4 linked regions of the Homo sapiens genome follow. The protein of the gene in region 4 purifies or fractionates together with the protein of the main gene of each other region. This does not show direct contact. Each region holds a gene or a part of one and is shown on either strand. Other genes may lie near its edges.

What was found. Proteins that work in one complex are often made in the same cells at the same time.
Region 1: the proteins of PACC1 (region 4) and NOP9 purify together in Homo sapiens (co-immunoprecipitation; 3 studies listed by BioGRID and IntAct, with this or other methods). This does not show direct contact.
Region 2: the proteins of PACC1 (region 4) and TBC1D15 purify together in Homo sapiens (co-immunoprecipitation; 3 studies listed by BioGRID and IntAct, with this or other methods). This does not show direct contact.
Region 3: the proteins of PACC1 (region 4) and XPO4 purify together in Homo sapiens (co-immunoprecipitation; 3 studies listed by BioGRID and IntAct, with this or other methods). This does not show direct contact.

Annotation. Positions count from the first base shown.
Region 1 is NC_000014.9:24,301,712-24,306,902, reverse strand, and holds part of NOP9 (nucleolar protein 9), read right to left. Parts: coding exon 5,181-5,191; intron 4,939-5,180; coding exon 4,797-4,938; intron 4,672-4,796; coding exon 4,479-4,671; intron 3,922-4,478; coding exon of another isoform or gene 3,913-3,921; exon of another isoform or gene 3,836-3,912; intron 3,830-3,835; coding exon 3,689-3,829; intron 3,172-3,688; coding exon 3,046-3,171; intron 2,863-3,045; coding exon 2,626-2,862; intron 2,411-2,625; coding exon 2,305-2,410; intron 1,966-2,304; coding exon 1,808-1,965; 3' UTR 1,271-1,807; coding exon of another isoform or gene 1,138-1,270; 3' UTR 957-1,137; coding exon of another isoform or gene 766-956; 3' UTR 530-765; coding exon of another isoform or gene 380-529; 3' UTR 1-379. Other genes in the region: lipid transferase CIDEB, read left to right, coding at 380-529, 766-956, 1,138-1,270.
Region 2 is NC_000012.12:71,845,121-71,850,424, reverse strand, and holds part of TBC1D15 (TBC1 domain family member 15), read right to left. Parts: intron 2,134-5,304; exon of another isoform or gene 1-2,133. UniProt on the Homo sapiens protein: Acts as a GTPase activating protein for RAB7A. Does not act on RAB4, RAB5 or RAB6.
Region 3 is NC_000013.11:20,780,081-20,785,384, forward strand, and holds part of XPO4 (exportin-4), read right to left. Parts: intron 3,840-5,304; coding exon 3,642-3,839; 3' UTR 1-3,641. UniProt on the Homo sapiens protein: Mediates the nuclear export of proteins (cargos), such as EIF5A, SMAD3 and isoform M2 of PKM (PKM2). In the nucleus binds cooperatively to its cargo and to the GTPase Ran in its active GTP-bound form.
Region 4 is NC_000001.11:212,383,550-212,388,853, forward strand, and holds part of PACC1 (proton-activated chloride channel), read right to left. Parts: intron 3,552-5,304; coding exon 3,342-3,551; intron 1,877-3,341; coding exon 1,725-1,876; intron 1-1,724. UniProt on the Homo sapiens protein: Chloride channel gated by pH that facilitates the entry of chloride ions into cells upon exposure to extracellular acidic pH. Involved in acidosis-induced cell death by mediating chloride influx and subsequent cell swelling.

The DNA.
Region 1 (5,191 bases), on a different chromosome or scaffold from region 4:
AAACACTATTACTGAAAACACTTCTGGAGAACTCTTGAGGGTGTGGGAAGTGAGGTGCAGCATTGTAGATAAGACAGAAGGGTGGACTTCGTGAGAACCTGGCTTGCTTTCCAATTCCAAACCAGAAGTGACTTGGAGGGGAGCAAGGGGAGATGCCAATGACATGGTAGGAGCAAAGAGGAAAAAGGTCAGCCTCTAGCTAGGATCCCCCAAAAACTGAAGAACACGGAGAGCTGCAACCTTTAGGAGGTATCAAAGTGCCGGAAAGTCAAAGTGGGACATCGACCAATGTCTAGAGCCAACTGATGGATGTTGGGCAGCTAAAGAGGGAAGGGGCATGGGATAAGACCTGCCCTTCTTGCTTCTTGCCATTGGGCAGGCATTGGAGACCCTACTGCTGAATGGAGTGCTAACCCTGGTGCTAGAGGAGGATGGAACTGCAGTGGACAGTGAGGACTTCTTCCAGCTGCTGGAGGATGACACGTGCCTGATGGTGTTGCAGTCTGGTCAGAGCTGGAGCCCTACAAGGGTAAGAGGCCTATACTGGGGCTGCTTCCAATGCCTGTCCTTTAGAGCTTTCCCGGGCTTCCTCTCTAGCTTAACCCTGATCCTGGGGACCAGGTGCAGGAGGAGTTGTGGAATTGTCAAGGATGTCACACAGTGGACAGAAAGTCCAAGCGAGGGAGGGTCTGACCCAGTGCTGATGGAGATTAGTGGTGGGTGTCTGGTATGAGGATCTACTGCACTGACAAGGGTGTCCTACAGAGTGGAGTGCTGTCATATGGCCTGGGACGGGAGAGGCCCAAGCACAGCAAGGACATCGCCCGATTCACCTTTGACGTGTACAAGCAAAACCCTCGAGACCTCTTTGGCAGCCTGAATGTCAAAGCCACATTCTACGGGCTCTACTCTATGAGTTGTGACTTTCAAGGACTTGGCCCAAAGAAAGTACTCAGGTCAGAAATCAACATGTCATACTGCCCCATCCCCTACAGTTGGATAGTCCCCATAATTCGTCCTCTTGCACCCACCTACCCCTAGTTAGCTCTTGCTTGTGGAAAGTCCTCATCTCCCAGCTTGATGGCTTCCTCCCAAGTTTTCCAAATCATCTGATTTCCTCTTGTCTCTGCCATTCAGGGAGCTCCTTCGTTGGACCTCCACACTGCTGCAAGGCCTGGGCCATATGTTGCTGGGAATTTCCTCCACCCTTCGTCATGCAGTGGAGGGGGCTGAGCAGTGGCAGCAGAAGGGCCGCCTCCATTCCTACTAAGGGGCTCTGAGCTTCTGCCCCCAGAATCATTCCAACCGACCCACTGCAAAGACTATGACAGCATCAAATTTCAGGACCTGCAGACAGTACAGGCTAGATAACCCACCCAATTTCCCCACTGTCCTCTGATCCCCTCGTGACAGAACCTTTCAGCATAACGCCTCACATCCCAAGTCTATACCCTTACCTGAAGAATGCTGTTCTTTCCTAGCCACCTTTCTGGCCTCCCACTTGCCCTGAAAGGCCAAGATCAAGATGTCCCCCAGGCATCTTGATCCCAGCCTGACTGCTGCTACATCTAATCCCCTACCAATGCCTCCTGTCCCTAAACTCCCCAGCATACTGATGACAGCCCTCTCTGACTTTACCTTGAGATCTGTCTTCATACCCTTCCCCTCAAACTAACAAAAACATTTCCAATAAAAATATCAAATATTTACCACTAAGACTTCTGACTCCAATTTAAACCAGGAAAGGGATGGGGTGGATACCCCATTTTGCCCTCCCCCATCAACACCCAGTCCCAGATCCAAAGCCTCAGTCTTCAAGTATGGAGTTCAATGCCCGCCTCCGCTTGGCCACCGCACCCTGCTGCTGTTCCCAAGCCTCTCGCCGCTTTAGGAAGGTAGTCAAGGCCACATTTCGAGCCACATGGTGGCCGAAAGGGTCTCTTATCAGCTCCTGGTTCTGCTCCCCTGCAAAGGGAACCACTCATGTTTAGTACTACCATGCTCAAAGACAGACTCTACTTGACGTAAAGATCCCTCCATTTCCCCCAGACCCTGGGACTGCCACTGGGATAAAGTGAACACTTCACTTTCCAAAGAACAGAAGTCAGAGGGCAGGGTGAGGGCAGAGGACTACACAATCAGTCAGCGGGAGGGAAGGGGAAAGCAGACTGCTAAGAACCCATGAGCAAGACCACCCTTTGGAACTAAAGACTGTTGAATTTCAGTAGACTTCCCAGCTACCCAGTGATCTGGAGTAAGAGAGGGGAGAGTCTGGAAACATCAAAGAGAGGGGCTGGTACTCACCAAGCTCAGCAGCAATTTCCTTCCGGGCCCTCAAGGCTGCTCCACTCCAGATGGCATCTAGCACACGGCTGCCATGGCGACTACAGGCCAGAGCCACATATTGTCCCTGTATGGAGACAAGCAAAGTAGGTCTCCCTAGCAAAATCCACAAAAGTATTTTGGAGGCTTGTGGAGAGTGAATTTTCTGAAGAGTTTAAGGGCTGAATTAAAATAGTCTAGGAATTACATAGCCTTTTTGAGTCTGAAGGTACAGTCCAGGGAAAGCTCATATTCTCTAAATGGATGATGGTGGGGAATCAAGGCAAAAGCCAGAAATCTAACCTTTAGGTTCTGCAGCACACGGCGGCGCAGCTTGCGCGTCACAGAGGGGCTGGTCAGGATGGCATCGAGCACATGAGAGCCAGCGGGACTTTGGGCAAGGGACAGAAGCTGTGGTCCCGTCAAGGCACCCAGACTTCGAAGTACAAGACCAGGAGTGGAGAAGTGCAGCAGATGCTGGAGCAGTAGAGACCCAAGGACTGTCACATCCCCCAAGGCTCTGGCTGCGGCCATTGCCACCTGGCAGCGCAGAGATAAGAAATTAGGAGGCACCAACAAGCCAGGTGGATGAGCCCATCCCCAGAACACTGCCACCTCCACCTGGATGAAGTCACCACTCTCACCTCAGAAGTCAGACGCTTGCTAAACCCTGGGAGGCCTGACTCCCAATTAGTCACTGGCTTGGCCTCTCCCCTACCTCACCTGGTGCTCTGCAGGCACTGCCCCCTCCTCCTCCGTCAGTCCATAGTACACCTCATAAGCCATCAAAGTGGCAAAGAGAGGCACACAGGCCACTTGCCGGGATGAGGGCTCTGCACAGTGGAATGCCTAAAGGAGAAGACAGAATATGATGAACCTGAGAACTTCTCCGTCCCTTACCTCAACTTTAAGGGAACACCTTCAGGAAAGGAAAGAAGGCCCAACTCCACAAGAATGTTAGCTCCATGAAAGCAGATGTCATGCCTTGCTGTATCCCCAGCCTCTATCACATACAGGGGTTAATAAATGTTTATCCCTTAAATAAACTTCTCTCTTAGTTCTGGGAGACAATTTTTGTTCCAGGACTGTGAAATAACATTTGGCCTCAGCCGGGCACGGTGAGCTGAGATTGCGCCACTGCACTCCAGCCTGGGCAACAAGAGCAAAACTCCGTCTCAAAAAAAAAAAAAAAAATTAGCTGGGTATGGTGGCGGGCACCTATAGGCCTCATTTTCCCCCATTCCTGTGAACTCCTTGGGCATTAGACTTCCTGAGTCCAGAGGTACAAAAACTTAAGATTAGATAAGTCCTAAAAGGTAGAAGTTGAACTGAGGGCATAAACAGATTGTGGGTAATATCCACTCACCTCCAACAAGAGCTGTAGGACCTTGGCTTGGTAGGCCCCAACTCTGCGACAGGCCCCCACCAGGGCAATGACTACCCCTGGGTGGCCCTGGGCCAATACAGCTTCCAAGACAGGGCTCAGCTCCTCAAACACAGGGGACAGCTGATGGGAAACATGGAATGTAACTCTGGCATTCTGGTAATGGCGGACCACATTATTCAGAGAAATCTTCCCAACGAAAACAACTAAAAATGCTAGATAAAACATAAAAAGCATTGCCAGTATCAGGACTTTTGTTTGGCTAGATAAGGCCCAGGATAAGGGGGCAGTCTTAGAGGTGCCACCTCACAGGAAGGAACTTTAAGTGGCTCTTCCCTATGTGTAAGGGAGCACTAGGAGCAAGGGGAGACTAAAATTAAACTGCACTTCCACTCTAACACCCAATGCATGAGACCACAGGGAAGCCCACCTTAGTCCTAAGCAGCAAAGGAAAAGAGAAGCTATGGCAACAGCTCTAGCACTCATGTGGGCTTATAGCCAAGTACCAGAGTCTGGGTGGGCCATGGAACCTCAAGCTGTAAACCTGAATAAAGCCAGTTTCTTGCTGGTCCTCATACCTGAGAGAAGTCAAAACAAATCCTCACTAGAAGGTGGGCACCTTTATCCTAAGCTCTGGAAAACCTCAAAGAATAGCTTTTCAAGGGCAATGGCCAGCACAATGTCAAAGGTATATAGAGGCAGACAGACCATAAAATAAGGTCCAGTGATCAAGAATTAGCAGAAACAGATCCAGCTCAGGTTTCCAACTCACCAGCTCAGGGGTAGTGACTGCATCCAGTAAGCGCTGCAAAGGGAAGTTGGCAATGGGATGTGCAGCCAGGGTCTGCAGCTGCCCCTGCAAGTGCTCCTCAAAGAGGCTCTGGAGTCTTGGGGGCTCCAACACCAGCAGGACCTGCTCCAGGAGTCTGGAACTCGTCTGATCTCGGAGAAATAGCAGTAGGGGACTAGGGACAAGAAGGGCATCAGGCAGTCTTAACTCCATTTCATGCAAAATACAGTTGCACTACATCACCTCATTCATTTCACACAGCCCCGCCAACTTGGGTCGATCCTGAGGCCCTGACCATACCTGCCATCTACTGAGGAACCGCGAGTACTCAGGTAGCCAATCACAGCATTGCAGAGATGAGCGCAAAACTGGGGAAGTTTGCGGTGTAAAACCTGTAAAGCCACTTGAAGACAGAAGCTGGAGATCTTATCAGTGATAAACACTGTGGAGAGAGGGCAGAAATAAAGCGGCTTTCCCAAAATCCAGACAACCTGCGTAACCTCAAACTTTAGGCAACAAGATACAGGGCACTATGGACACAAAGGGACTATACAAAGTGCTCTGAACGTCAAACCAGACCAGGTTTGAAAAGAAGAGGAATAACCTGAGGTAAGGGCCTTGCTTGGTGGTAAGATGACCTCCAGACAAGTAGATACGAGACCATCCTCCTACTTCCCTCCTTACCTGCAATGTCC
Region 2 (5,304 bases), on a different chromosome or scaffold from region 4:
GTGGCTGTGCAGCCAACCTGCTCAGAAGGAGCTGGGTGGCCCACTGTGCGAACCCCGCCGGCTCCACATGGCAGGTGAAATGCACTGGTTTAGAACTTCTGATGTCTTTCAAACCACTCTAGCCAGTATAGCCCCAGTATTTACCATGACAAAATTTGACAGAGAAATGTTACTTCTTTTGAAAGGAAGAAAACTGAGTTATACCAAGAGTTAGGTCTTCAAGCCAGAGATTTGAGATTTCACTATGTAATGAGTATCACAGCCAGAAATAATATGATTATCATGAGAATGGAGTATTTGAAAGCTGAGATAACTCCAGAGTGTCTTCTGATATTAGATTATCATAATTTAAACTCACAGCGATGGCTGTTCCGGGAACTCTCTTCACAATTGTCTGGAGAGGGTCAACTTGTTAGAAACCCTTTAATTTTTTGAGTTTAGAGCTATAGAAGCACTCCTGCAATACTGGATCAACACCCTTCAGGGGAAACTTAGCCTTTTCCAGCCACTGATCCTCAAGACGCTGGAAGCTTTGGTGGACCCCAAACATTCTTCTATAGACAGAAGCAAACTCCACATTTTACTACAGAATGGCAAAAGTCTATTAGAGTTAGAAACAGATATTAAAATTTTCAGAGTCAATTTTGGAGATCCTGGATGAGAAAGAGTTGCTAGAAGAGCTCTATCAAAATGGAGTGACCCCCGAGTCTTTGAAAAGAGCAGTACTGGGACTGACCATGCAGAGGAGATAGAGTTGCTGATGGAAAACTACTACCGACTAGCTGACGATGTCTCCAATGCAGCTTAGGAGCTTACGGTACTGACTGATGATTCACAAAGTATTATTTTCATCAATCTGGACAGCCACTGTAACGTGATAATGAAGTTGAATCTACAGCTGACCATAAGAACCTTCTCTCTTTCGCTCTTTGGAGTAATGGAAGTTGCTTTTGGAATGAGTTTGGAATCTTCCCTTGAAGAGGCCCATGGAGTGTTTTGACTGATTACAGGAATTATGTTCATGGGAAGTGGCTCAGCTGGAGGCGCCTGCTTTCATTCCTTGGACAACAGCTAGAAGCTCCATTGCCTCCTATGATAGCCTCCTTACCTAAAAAGATTCTTCTGGCAGATAGAAGCGTGGAACAAAGAACAGTCTCAGACCTGATGCACTTGGATCAGGCAGGAGTATCCTAACAAACCATGAGGAACAACCCTATGGACACTGAAGTTTTTTGTTTTTTTTTTGTTTTTTTTTTTTTTTATAATCACAGTTAACTTCTGATACTTTTATTATTTTCTTGTATGGAGTCAGACACTTGAAAAAAATTAATATCTGATGACAAAATATTTTGGCAGTCACAATACTAGAACTTGATTGCATTTCCAGAATTCTGAGTTAAAGAAACAAAGTGTTTGCTTTGTAACAGGCCAAAATTCTATTTCCTGCAAACTTTAAATGCTGTTTTTATAGACATGATGTGAGGCAACAGAAGAACAGACAGTTGTATAGATTTTATTTAATTTATACATAACAAGAAAAGTATAATTTCAGGCTGAATGAAGCCTAGGAGCTTGACAAACCCATAGGAAGCCATAGTTCTTTGTTACCACAGGGAATTACGTCCAAGTGAATTTCCTGATTCTCAGGTGACTAAAAAGCTAGCACTCTATGTATTAACCTTAAAACAAACTCTGAAAGTTTATGCTTTAAAAAACAAACTTTGACATAACATTATTTTCTTAGATTTGGCCCCCCTTTTATATAAGATGAATAAAAATAAATAATTTTTTTAAAAAGACCCAAATGAACTTGTATTAAAAGGATTTGTATCCAGAATATAAAATCCAGGACATAAAAAGAACACTAAAAACTCAGTGACAAAAAAACACAGTTTGAAAAAAAATAAGCAGAAGATTTAAACAGACACTTCATCAAAGAAGATACAAGGACAGCAAATAAGCACATGGAAAAATACTCAACACCATTAGTCATTACAGAAATGTAAACTGAAACCATAATGAAACACTATTACACACCTATTAGAATGGCTAAAATTAAAATGACTGACATTAAATATGGGCAAAAATATGAAGCAACTGGAACTTTCATACACTGCCAGTGGAAATATAAAACACTACACCTACTTTGGAAAACAATTTGGCAGTGTGTTAAAATGCTACACACACAACTAATATATATGATCCAGCCACCCCATTCCCAGGTATCCAATCAAGAAAAATGAAAGCATATTTTCATAAAACACATATACCAATGCTCAGAGCAGCTTTAATTTATTTTATTTATTTGTTTGTTTTATTATTTTTTCGAGACAGAGTTTCGCTCTTGTTGCCCAGGCTGGCGTGCAGTGGCAAGATCTTGGCTCACCGCAACCTCTGCCTCCTGAATTCAAGCGATTCTCCTGTCTCAGCCTCCCGAGTAGCTGGGATTACAGGCATGCACCACCATGCCCAGCTAGTTTTGTATTTTTAGTAGAGACAGGGTTTCTCCATGTTGGTCAGGCTGGTCTTGAACTCCTGGCCTCAGGTGATCCACCCACCTCGGCCTCCCAAAGTGCTGGGATTACAGGTGTGAGCCACGGCACCTGGCCTAAGAGCAGCTTTATTTGTAACAGTCAAAGTGGAAATAACCCAAATGTCTATCAAACACATGACTAGATAAACAAAATGTGGTATACCCATACAATGAATATTATTTGTGGGGTTTTTTTTTCGAGACAGTCTCGCTCTGTCACCCAGGCTGGAGAGCAGTGGCACAATCTCGGCTCACTGCAACCTCTGCCTCCCATGTTCAAGCAATTCTCCTGCCTCAGCCTCCCGAGTAGCTGGAATTACAGGCACATACCACCACACCCAGCTAATTTTTGTATTTTTAGTAGAGACAAGGTTTCACTATGTTGGTCAGGCTGGTCTCGAACTCCTTACCTCGTGATCCACCCGCCTCAGCCTCTCAAAGTGCTGGGATTACAGGCGTGAGCCACCGTGCCTGGCCCAATGGATATTATTTGGAAATAAAAAAAAAACTAATGATACATACAACACCATGAATTTCAAAATAATTATCCTGAATAAAGAAAGCCATACAAAAACAGAGTATATACTATATAATTCCATTTATATAAAGTTCTAGAAAATTAAAACTAATTTATAGTGACCAAAAAATGCTCAGTGGTTGCCTGAGGACACATGGAGTGATGGTACAGTGAGTCACGAGAAAACTAACAGAGGTGGTGAAAACATCATTATCTTAATTGTGTTCATGGGTTCATGGTGTACACAAATGTCAAAGTTGTATACTCTAAATACATGTGGTCTATCATATCAATTGTATCTCAAAAATAGCTGTATAGGCCAGGTACAGTGCCTCACCTGTAATCCCAGAACTTTAGGAGGCCAAGGTGAGCGGATCACTTGAGGCCAAGAGTTCTAAGCAGACGGAGCAACACGGCAACACTCCATCTCTACAAAAAATACAAAAACTAGCTGGGTGTGATGGTGCATGCCTTTAGTCCCAGCTACTCAGGAGGCTGAAGTGGGAGGATCACTAGAGCCCAGGAGGCGGAGGCTGCAGTAAGCCGAGATCACACACTACACTCTAGCCTGGGCCACGGACCAAGGCCATGTCTCAGGGCAAAAAAAAAAAAAAAAAAAGCTGTATAAAAAATAATTTACATAGAAAGTCCATTGTTGTAAACAGTAAAAACCTAATTAAAAATAAATACATACATACATGAGGACATTCTCACTAAAAAGAAAGAAATTAGTCCTGCCTCAAAAAAAAATTAACAATCATACCCTCACTTAGCTGGGAATCAGGTGTTCATAGGAAGCAAAATATATCAAGAGCATTCAAAGACTTGCCACTTGGTGGTGCTAAACTGACTGTATAAAATTCAATTCAACAAACTTTTATGAAGCAATTATGTGCCAGACATCATAAAGAACAGAGAAATTAAAAGGTATTAGAGTTCCTTGCTTGTCTGTACCTGGCAAAATTATTGAAAAGGTAAAGAAGGAATATTCTAAGTGTAAAAATACTACAAAAAAAAGGAGGAAAGTTTTCCTTTTGGGATAAAAATGTCTCATGCCCTCCAGGCTCTTATTTATTCTTAAATATTTGCTAAGATGCCCAAGCAGATAAGTACATTTATAAAACTTCCAATGATGGCCTGCTGAAAGCAACAGAAACTGTATTTTGTTTTTCTCCTCTAGCAAAGGAGCTATGTCAGATATACCTTATTAAAAGAGTTCTGGTGACCACAGCAAACATTTTAGAATAAATTTTCTCACCTCTAATTTAGCAAAAGTTTTAATTAAAAAGCAAAAATGAGGCAGAAAAACAGATAAATTCAACTTTTAGACAGAATGAACTTTTGCACAATCCAACTCAAGAACATCCTTCCTGACACAAAGAGCTGGAAAAAATAAGGAAGTTTCACAATACAGTAGTAATTTTTTATACTGTCCCTACACTTAATACTGAATTTTTACTTATATTATGATTATTATAATTTTTATTTATTTCCAAAAATGGAAGATAAAGGAAAAATTCAACCCAAATATTTTAAATGTAGCAGTAAGTTCAGGGTAAAATTATTGCCCTAAATCATTCTCCAAACTTGGAAACCCATCACCTATCATACACAACATGCATTCTTAACTTTAGCAATTATGTGAACTTACAGGCTAATATAACAACCAAAAAAGGTACAAAAGTTCAGTTTCTTTCAAAACTATTTGGCATACAGATGATAATTTGAGCATATGGTTCCAGAAAGCATCCCCAGGAAATGCGAGACTGAGCATCCTAATGGGCTCCACACCCAAATATCTAAGCACCTACTTGGTATCTCCATTTCAATAAGGCATCTTAATCTCATGTGTTCTATCTAAACCTGCTCTTCTTCTATATTCCCAATTCTGTCAAAGATATCTCATCCACCCACTTATTCTAAATGCTTCTTTCACCATCCAGACCCTATAACCTAAGTCCCTCGAACCTTCTCCTCTGACACTGGCCCCTTATCATTTCTAGCCTAAGTCACTAAAATAACATTCTGATCTCTCTTCTTCTGATCTAGTCACCTTCCAATAATCTGCCTAAGGTGCATAATGTATAACCACTGCCCAAACTAACCTTTACAAAATGTCCATCTGGTTATACCACACAGGGGCTTAAAAATCTTCTGACTTCACCCTTTACCTCTACAGTGAGGCTATACTTCCTGATACTCCCCAACACATAAAACATTTCTGCCTTGGGCCATTGTGAACTCTGTTACCCAA
Region 3 (5,304 bases), on a different chromosome or scaffold from region 4:
ATGTTAAACCTCATAGCCAAATCAGTTCCTTATTCTCTGGTTTTAGAAAACACAAACAAACCTTAAGAAGTACCGAGGTTCCTTCTGACTTAAAAGGTTAATGTTTTATTCAGGAACCAATAACAATAATTCCTCATCAAAGACAGCTAACTTAGTAAGGTCAATTGACAACCACCTCTAACAACAGAGGTGGCAAACAGATAAAAATTGTTTAACAGAGAAAAATATTATTTCAGGGTTCAGAATGATGTTGAATACTAGGAGACTCAAACTTGTAATCCTTGAAACTGACAGCTAGTTCCCTTCAATACTTTAGGGGTTCATAGAAGTATTAACAGAAATGGGAAACATGGTGATATTACAACTATAAAGACTTGACATTTTTGTTAAAAGAGAAAGTTCAAAGACAGTTAAGGGGAGTGTTAAATAATGCTGACTGGGGGGAAATGATATAGATACTTGCTTTTCAAATGAAAATCATGGACAAGTGGTAGTAACCATCCCATCTGAACAGAGTAATGTAATATAATTAGATACACAGTTTACAACGAAATAAGACTAAATTCTTAAAATTAGTTTGAAAAAAACCTGCAGTTTGTTTACATTAAAAGTCATACTTTACACCAGACAAAAACTCAATGCAGTGATGTTAACATGCTACTGTCTTCTAACAGAGATGGCCACCCTGAAAGACCCAAATAATGGTGCTGGAAAGGACACTGTCAAATACTGTCAGGTAGTTTTGCTACTGAGGCAGCCACTCATCCAGCACAAGGACTATAAAAGCAAATCAATCCTTTTAACAGAACAAGAACACAGTTACAGGTGCTACCACATTAACAGACTGTGAAAGTACAAAGTCTTTAGTGATTGTGCCTTGGGAAATAAATGGGTCAAGGAAAATAAAATGAGAAACAAACAAAGGATGTATGGAAAACTAGAGGTTAAAGGATACTATATGAACAACAGAAATTTTATAAAACAAAAATCTAAAAATGAAATACTTGACAGTGTCCCTTTGACATATATAAAAGAGGGCACAAATAATGTTTTTGTTTTAAAAAATATTTTAACAACAGTTTTAATAGAAAAAAAATCAACTGACTTGAATTAAGCCAGTGTTCTTGACACCCACTGGGCCAAGAGCATTAAAACAAAACAAGACCGGAGAAGTTAATAAACACAGCTAAAGACAAAATTGGACAAAATAAAACAAAAGAAAACACAAAGTGAATAAGCATCCAATCAGGCAAACATGGACACAACCACCCTGAAAAGGTCTAGCCGTTGCAACTCAGTGGCATCCCCATCACCTAAAAAATGGTAGTGGCTTCTCCCCACCCCAGTGAGCTAATATTCAACATTCTGCTGATCTTATAAGTATTATTTGGTCCAATCTGAAGAAGGTCTTTTTAAACTAAAACTAGTCTAATGAAATTACACCTCAGGAATATGGAGGTGAAATTTTCTATTTTTAGTATTGTAATAGGATCTGGGCAAATTTTGCAAATATGTTGCCATCTGGATAAAAGTTATTAAATATAGATGCCTTTTTACTTACCAAGGCATTCCTTTCCCACTCCTCTTTAGTTTTAATAACTTGATTATAGTTTTGTCATGGCGCGTGGACCTGTCCAGTCAATTGTGTGTTTCAGTGCCCTTTGGTAAAGAGACTGTACTTAGCACACACACAGATACACATAATTCACAACAGCTGAGAAAGCTTGAGGGATCTGGGAAACACAAAACACCAAGAACAATGCAAAACAAATAGATTACTGCTGCATATCACTTCAAGTTTTTTAAGGGGAAAAAAAAAACACCTAAAAATAAATGCATCAAAGTATTTTTTAAAATACAGAAACGTGTACTTCTGGATGACTGATATTAATTTCCTTCCTAGCAGTCTTTTCAAGATGTTTTTGCTTCCCCTTAATTGTGACTCAAAGCTAATCAAATTGAGAGAAATGTAAGTTATGGCCCAAGGCCCTGCATTCACATCTACCTAACATCACATGCACAGGTTGGATGTAATTCAGATGCTCCAGTTTTGTTAACTGTTAATAACACAGAATTATACAAAGTTTTGCACAGCATCACATGTAATGACACATATGCTATATGCAATCAGGTAGAAAAACCGTATTTGCAGAATGGTTTAATAGATAGGTGTCAGGAACATGGTGGAAGCAGAGTTTCATGAGTGCACCTGTGCCAGAGTCCTCTACCTGTCACTGTGCTGTGAAAGTACTGCAATGAGTGGAGTTTCATATGCCTGCTGTGTATAAATTAGCTTTCATTTCCACATTGTAAGCTGGCACACTGAATTAGGGGAGCCTGGCAGCTGTATAAAAATCCTGATTAAGAGATCAAACTAGAGGATCTAAAGTGAATTTTTAATCTCTGAAATTAAATTCACTGGCTCCCATGTCTGGATAAGAATTATTGCCCCTAATGCCCCAACGTGCAATAGTCTGTGTGAATCAGTGATTCACATCCTTTAAAATAATTATTGCTTAAGCAAGCCATTTAGAGTAGATATGGGCTATGTGGCTGGATAGAAACACACTCAAAAAGTTAGACTAGACGGAAACAAGCCTTTCATTTCACTGATAAACCTACATAAATACACGATCGAAAGGGGCAACAGGTTCATAGCAGCTAACACCCTAAACCAACTCTGAAGCATCAAGACGTGGTTTCTTACTAAAACAAATCAGCTGTTTTTGTATTTTCCTCTTAAAATTAAGGCAATGAAATGGCTACAGTTCCTAAGGTTATTTTTACGGAACAAAAATATACATGTATTTTCCTCCTCAAGTTCAGGCATCAGAGTATGATTAGTGACTTGTATTACACAAAACCTGCAGCACTGGGTTGATGTGAGAGAGAGAGAGAAAAGAAAGAGAGAGACAGAAAGCAAGAAAAGCAAGAAAGCAAGCAAGCAAGAAAGCAAGCTAAGAAAAAGCCAACAAACCCCTGGTGATGTTTCCCCTTCCTGCTGAATTATAAAACCCAATCATCAAAGGGAGGAAAAGCTAGAAAGCACAAAACCTCTTAAGAGTTTTCAATGTCTCTTTCATTGATTCAAAACTTTTGGGGTGACGAAAGGGAGAAGCTTATTAACATGAAGACTCCTGGGCCCAACAACCAGACATTCTGACTCTGAAGGTCTACAGTTGGGCCTAAGAATCTGCCTTTTCACCAGCTCCTCAAGTGATGCAGGCGATCTATGGAGATTTTGAGAAACACTGCCTAGCATATATCCATTTCATATTTAATGACAAAAATTCTAAACTTTGGCTAGCCACCTATGTTAAAAGGAAAAAAGGCACTGCATATGTATTTCGTGGTGCCCATATCTGTTTGCACATATATGGAATTTCATTTTGAAAATTTTAAATCACCATTCAGAATCTAAAAGACATATATATGACAGATTGTGGCTAACACTTAACAGCAGAAGCTGATGCCAAGTTGACCTCTCCTGTTTCACTGTATTACATACATATCAAAGTTTCAGGCTCTCCAAAATCCAAAATGGCCAAATGAACTGAGGAATAGGACAAGACTCAAGTCAACTTTCAGCAATTCAGTGCACTTTGCAGAAAGGATCTAAATTAAGCATAAAGTTCTGTTGTTTATTTTACACAAAGGAGACCACCAACATTTGCCATAAATTCTTCTAAACTCTTTAAGAAGGCCATCTTCTGCTTCCGATCCAGCGTAGGAGGAGTGCTGCTTGCAGTGAGCTTGTTGAAGGCATCTGCTAATCTCTGGTAAATAACTGGGTCTTGCTGACTTGATAGTAATGTTTCGACCAGTTCAGAATATTCAGCCTATTGAAGAGATAAAGTATACACAAGTATCCTCCTTAGAATATCATACAAGTAGATCTTATCAGTTACTGGACTGTGGGGTTCTAAAAGGCAGGGACACATTTTTAAGAGTTAACATTTAGAATAATTCAGCATTTAAGTACTACTGTTTGAAAACCTTTTACATGGATTAATTCATCTATCATTTACAACAATGCTTCGAGACAGGTACTGTTTCTATTCCCATTCCAGAGGTGAAGGTTTCGACACTCAGTGAGGTGAAGTGATATGGCCCAGATCAAGCAAGAGTCCACCAATCTAGCCCCAAGACCCATGTGATAATCAACTTTGTTGTGCTGCCTCTTCAAAGCACATTATTCCTATTTATGTTGCGTTTGACACATAATCTAAGTCTGCAATAGTTCCCCAGAGGTTAATAGAGATATCTGGTCCACCCAGTTCTGAGGACAGCAATGTGCACAAAGACAGGACAGGCAGGAGTCTTTTGGGAGGACGGGGCGGAGAAATATATTCCAGTGCCTTCTCCAAGTGGAGCAGGGCACTCTGAAAGCTCCAAACCAGCACTGTGCCCAGCAGCTCTTAGAGAAAGGGCAGGAAGAGGACTTTAGTAAATATAGGAATATGGGAAATTTTCTGTTTTTAATACTCTATTATAAAGCCTTATAAAGGAAAGTGGAAGAAGGTGTGGGCTTAAGGGAAATTCAACCAGGACAGAGGTAAGCTCTCAAAAAAAGCTGGCCTGGCCAAGCATAGTGGCTCAGGCCTTTAATGCCAGCACTTTGGGAGGCTGAGGAGGGATGACTGTTTGAGCCCGGGAATTTGAGACCAGCCTGAGCAACACAGTGAGATCCCACCTCTACAAAAAATTTAAAAATTAGGCAGTTGTGGTGGTGCACAGCTGTAGTCCCAGCTACTTGGGAGGCTGAGATGGGAGATCGCTTGAGCCCAAGAGGTTGAGGCTGCAGTGAGCCATGGTTGCTCCACTGCACTCCAGCCTGGGCAACAGAGTGAGATCCTGTCTCACTGCAACCTCTGTTTCCTGGGTTCAAGTGATCCTCCTACCTCAGCCTCCTAAGAGCCTGGGACTACAGGCATGCACCACCATCCCTGGCTAATTTTTGAATTTTTAGTAGGGACAGGGTTCTGCAATGTTGAGCAGGCTGGTCTCAAGCTCCCAGCCTCAATCAATCCACCCACCTTGGTCTCCCAAAGTGCAAAAATTACAAGCATGAGCCACTGCACCTGGCATGCTGTAATTTTTCATTGGCTTCTTGGGATATCATGATAGACCAAAATGGTGAAACCAAATGTTAATTACATTTGGAAAAGAAGGATAAGGTGCAGCATCCCAATCCCCAACCATGGAGCCAGAGTGGCTCCCCTAATTGCCTTATCAAAGGGACAGTCCTGTTCACAGGGGACCAAGTATAATCTCCTATCATTTCCCTACTCATGAGAAATGGTA
Region 4 (5,304 bases):
TCCATTCTATTTGTTCATCTTGGTCCTTTTCTGTCATTGGTTTCATGCAAATGTCTGGTGACCATTAATTCTCCATTCTTATTTATGAATGAAGGATTAGGTTGACTAGTATAGGTCTGGGTTTTGGTTTCTTCCAAAGTAGTAAATTTCTGTTTCTCTAATAGGCCTCTCCCTTGCATGGGAAAGCTAAGTATGCTCTGTGGAAGCACACTGAGTTTTCCAGTGTGTTTTACTCTGGGAAGAGTCCTTTCCTTTAGTTCTCTCTCCTTTTCCATTGTAGAAGTCTGCTCTGTTTCCTATGCCTACACAAAGAATCATCTTCCCTTCGCTTCTGTAGAGAATGGTTCCAGGGTCTTTTACCCAGAGGCAACCATCCCCAGCGGCTCTGCATACCTGGGGAGGGTATAGGGTGTGTCTGGCCCAGCCAACAGGCAGTCCAGTAATGACTACCCTGCTCTCTAACGGTGCTGATTCCAAGCTGGGGGTTTGGAAGGAAAGCTTGTACCTCTACAACAGGTCTCTCCTTCATCTGTTTTGGGTTAGGGATTTGCTCTAATTTGTTTGCTCCACCAATCTGGCCCAAGCTGTTTTTTATGCTTTATACCAGTTCCTCAAAATGTCTGGTCCACTGGTGATATCCTTTCTTCACGTGCAAAGCTATTATTGATGTTCTAGTCTGTTCTATCTCATTCCTTAGAGAATCATTTTAGCAGGATTTTAGGAGGGGGCCTAGCGTTCACATACTAACAAAAAAAAAATTAGTGTTATTCTTTCATCTTAAAACCCACTAACAGTTCCCTGTTACCCAAGGGAGCAAGTGTGGCTCTACAGCACGATGCATGTTCTTTTCTCATCTGGCCATTACTCTGTCCACAGCTTCATCACCCATCAGTCTTCCAGGGCTCCTGACCCTATGAAACATTTCCCCACCAACTGCAATTGTGCCCAGAGGCACAAGTACAACATGTCGTCTCTTCCCTTTAGGTCATGGTGCAATTTCCTCTGCCTAGAAAACCTTTCCTTCCCAATTTCATCTGGAAAACTATTGTAGCCCCTTTCAATGCTTTCTGAAGCAAGAATATGAAATGAAAAAGATGAGATGTAAATCAATACAAAACGCCTACCCTGTCTTTGAAACCCTGTGCAGTGCCACTCCTCCAGGGCGCTCCTAACCCCATCCCTCAGTCATCCTTCCCAGCCGTGCTGTGTTGTGCACGACAGCATGGCCAGCCCAGGGCCCAGGAGTCCTTGTCCCCAGACCGACGCTCCTTTACGCTGGCGTATTAATTTCAAACTATGGATTCTCAGGCCCCACCTAAGGAATTATAATTCAGTTGGCTTCACATGGAACCTAGAAATTCATATTTTCAAAAAGTATCCTGGCAATTCTGTCAAGTGGTCAGGTATGGGACCCACTTCGCTATATCGCACCAGCCCCACCCTTTAGCCCTGCCATTCTTCCATTGGGGACAGGGTCTCACCGCACTGTCAGGAATCCCTGAGCATTACTCAGCAAAGGCTGGAGGCCTCACTGTCCTCCCTGAATGCAAGTGAGCCAACCACAGCCAAGTGTCCACATGGCACAGCCGCATGTCTCCTTGGGGACTAAGGCCCCACACTGAGTGAGTGGAAGAAGGACTCCTAGGAAAAAGGAAACTTGGGGCCTTGGGTTGCGGGGCTAACAGAGCAGCTGCCCAGACCCAGCTCAGGCAGACAGGAATTACCACAGTCTGATTGGAGAAGGGGTCCGTGTAGTTGATCCTCTGGGTGGTGCAATTCATGTCACCCGGCTGGCCAGGGCTTGTCAGAGGAGGAATGACCTCGTAATGGTGCTTACAGCTGAGCAACTGGGCCTGACCGGGGTACAAGGCAATACCTGGGGGCACAAACAGGAAAAGCAAGTGTCAGAAATCACACTCCTGACCACATCCCTGAAATCATCTCACACCTACCAACAACCTACGTTCTGGACTCCCTGGAGGACTGCAGGGAAGGGAGAAGAAAAGGGTTTCAGAGGGTGAGGAGCCACATCCCCTGGCCTCAGAAAGCCCCGCTGTAGCAGAGGGCACAAGCCCCTCCTCAGTAAGCCCCTGGCCAACCTGGGATCCAGCCGCCCTGATGCCCACATCAAAACCCACTCCACCTCAGAGCCCCGCTCCACACCCTCCGAAGGAGTGTCTCTTGACTCAGCCCCTGTGCCACCCCTCTGGGCCAACACCCACCTGCAGAATCACTGGGAGGCTCTAAACTGTGGAACTCCTCAGAACTCATTTTGTCTCTTAGACTGGGAGCCCCAAGTGTGCAAGTCACATCCCAAGAGTCCCTCCCTCTTCCCAGCCCAGGCACCTCTACTGACAGTAGCTGTCCAGCCTCAAGGGCAGCAATGCTAAGACAGCAGCACATGGCATCAGAGACAGACAGACTTCAGAGACACTAAGACACCAGACAGAGAAAGTAAAACGTACAGATAAAGAAGACTCAAGCAGACACACAGAGAAGAGGGACAAACACAAGACAGGAAGAGATGGGCAGAGGAGCCATGACCAGCACACCTGACTCTGCTGGAGGCTGGCAGGAAGCCCCAGAGAGAGGGCACCCGGACTCTGGCTCTGCCATGTGAGCAGGCCCTCCCACAGGTTACTCAGGGGCATCTGTGGGCAGAACAGGTGGCACACACTGGGTGGACAGGGCCCAAGTCACACAGCTCATGCCTCCTCATTTACTCTACAGCCCCTAGAACATCCAGTGCCAGCCCTGCAGCCCAGAGCAGATAGCTTGCTCTATAGCAGAGTGGACTCCCCACTCAGGGACCAGACACCCCAGTGAGACAGGTATACCCAGTGTGGCCTGGGAGTCCCTCTCCAGGCAGGGTTGAATGGCCTCGCCTCCCCTGCCATCCTCCCCACCCCACAGTCCAGCCTTGACTCCTGCTTCTCCTCATCCCTGCCCTCTGGCCCCAGCCAAGTTAGTCTCATCCTCTCCAGAGAAGCCCTCTGCCTCCCTAGACACCCCTTCGCTCTGCTGATCCCCATCCCAAAGACACTCTCTTCCCATCTATGTGCTTTTCGAGGCCCATCTCAAATCCTACCTCTCTGCCAAGCTTTCCCTGACCCCTCTAGTAGCCTGCAGTAGCTGCTCCAGGCTCTGTCCATTTCTGTCCTCAGCACGTAACACACTCCCAACAGCAGCTCCTTGGGCATAGACTCTATACCTAGACTATGCTTGGTTGGACTCCTCTGCCCTGCCCGTAGTACCACAAATACAACGGCAGCTCAGGGAGTATCTGCCAGCTGACACCCTAGATCTGGGGCCCTGATGCCTGGCCCAGGGGCAGGCTCTACCTGGGGCATCATAGCGATCCACTTCCTTGTAAGACACAGACATGACAGGGTGCTTGAGTTTCTCACGAAAGTCTGTGATGGTCCGGTAGACCAGGAAGACGGCCACAGCCATGAGCAGCAGGTAGATGAAGATGAGTAGGACCGAGAAGACGTTCTTCAGGCAGGCCTTGCTGAAGCGGATGCTGCTGGAGGCGGACTCGCTGTCCAGGCCTGACAACAACAAAACACCATGTGACCCAGGGCACAGGGACAAGGTACAGACAGAGATGGCCAGCAACCTCCAGGCCCTTGCCTGCCTCACCAAGGAGGTGAAGTCACCTGCACGCCCAACCTTTCCACCTCACCCCACAAATCATAACAAAGGGCACCTGTAAACATTTACTACACAGCTTCTCTGCCAGGTAGAGGACACCAAGCTGAAGGAGACTTATTCATTGTCTTTAAGGAGTTTACTCTCAAAAGAAAAAAGATAAAAGATAAAAAACGATAAAAATGTTAAAAGAAAAAGCAAAAAACAAACAAAAAGAACAGAAAAAAGGAGTTTACTCTCTAGAGGGATAGGCAGTTACAATCCAACAAGTGAGCTGGCCCCAACCTACCTCTCTGGCCTTATCCCTCACTGCTCCACTTCCCCAGTTCTCCCAGCTCTAGCTCCACCTCTACTCATCGACTTTCTGTTCTTCTGGAGTGCCCTTCTCAACCCGGGATTCCCTCACACTTACCATTCCCTCTGCTTGATTTTCTTTTCTTCCACAGCTGATGCTTCACTCATCCTAAGCCCCGAAAGCTTTTTGCTTGGCATCTGGCTTCCAACAGTGACAGAGTAGCTTGGTCACGCCATCCTTCCATGGAAGCATTTTAATTTAGAAAGACATTTTCTTGGCCAGGCGCAGTGGCTCAAGCCTGTAATCCCAGCACTTTGGGAGGCCGAGGCAGGAGGATCACCTGAGGTCGGGAGTTCGAGACCAGCCTGACCAACATGGTGAAACCCCTGTCTCTACTAAAAATACAAAATTAGCTGGGCGTGGTGGCGCATGCCTGTAATCCCAGCTACTCAAGAGGCTGAGGCAGGAGAATTGCTTGAACCCAGGAGGCGGAGGTTGCAGTGAGCCGAGATTACTCCATTGCACTCCAGCCTGGGCAACAAGAGCGAAACTCCATCTCAAAAAAAAAAAAAAAAGAAAAAAGAAAGAAAGACATTTTCTTGAGGAAGCCTCTCCTGACCCCTAACCTTTATTTGGGCACCTCTTCCTCAGTGTTCCCAGGGAGCCCTGTACGTCCCCTACTTCATCACTCTGCAATGTCATGTCTATACATCTTTTATCCTCCTAGGCTGTGAGTTCCATGAGGGCAGGGATGGGGCCAGTCTTATCCCTAACTGAATCCTTAGCCCTTCATGCTATGCCTGGAACATTCTGCATTTACATGGTGACTGATTGAACACGTCCTGATGCTATTGGTACAACACAACTCTGTCTCCCCTACCTCCCTCACAAAATCCTGAGGCTAGAAGCTAGATTAATCTCTGTTATGGACGAAACTGTATCCCCCACCCTCAAATTCAGGTTGAAGCCCTAACCCTCAATGTGAGTATATTTAGAGACAGGGACTTCAAGGATATAATTAAGGTTAAATGTGGCCATAAGGATGAGGCCTGATCCAATAGGACCAGAATCCTTATAAGAGGAGGAGACACTAGGAGCACATGCACACAGGAAAAAAGGCCATGTGAGGACACAATGAGAAGGCAGCCATCTGCAAGCCAAGGAGAAAGGCCTCACCAGAATTCAATCCTGCTGGCACCTTGATATTGGATTCTCGCTTCCAGAACTGTGAGAAATAAATTTCTGTTGTTTATGCCACTCAACTGTGGCATTTTGTTACAGCAGTCTGAGCTGACTAAGATACTCCCACAGGGCTCCCTGTGCCCTCTCTGCTCCTCAGCTGAAAATGGAGCTCCCTG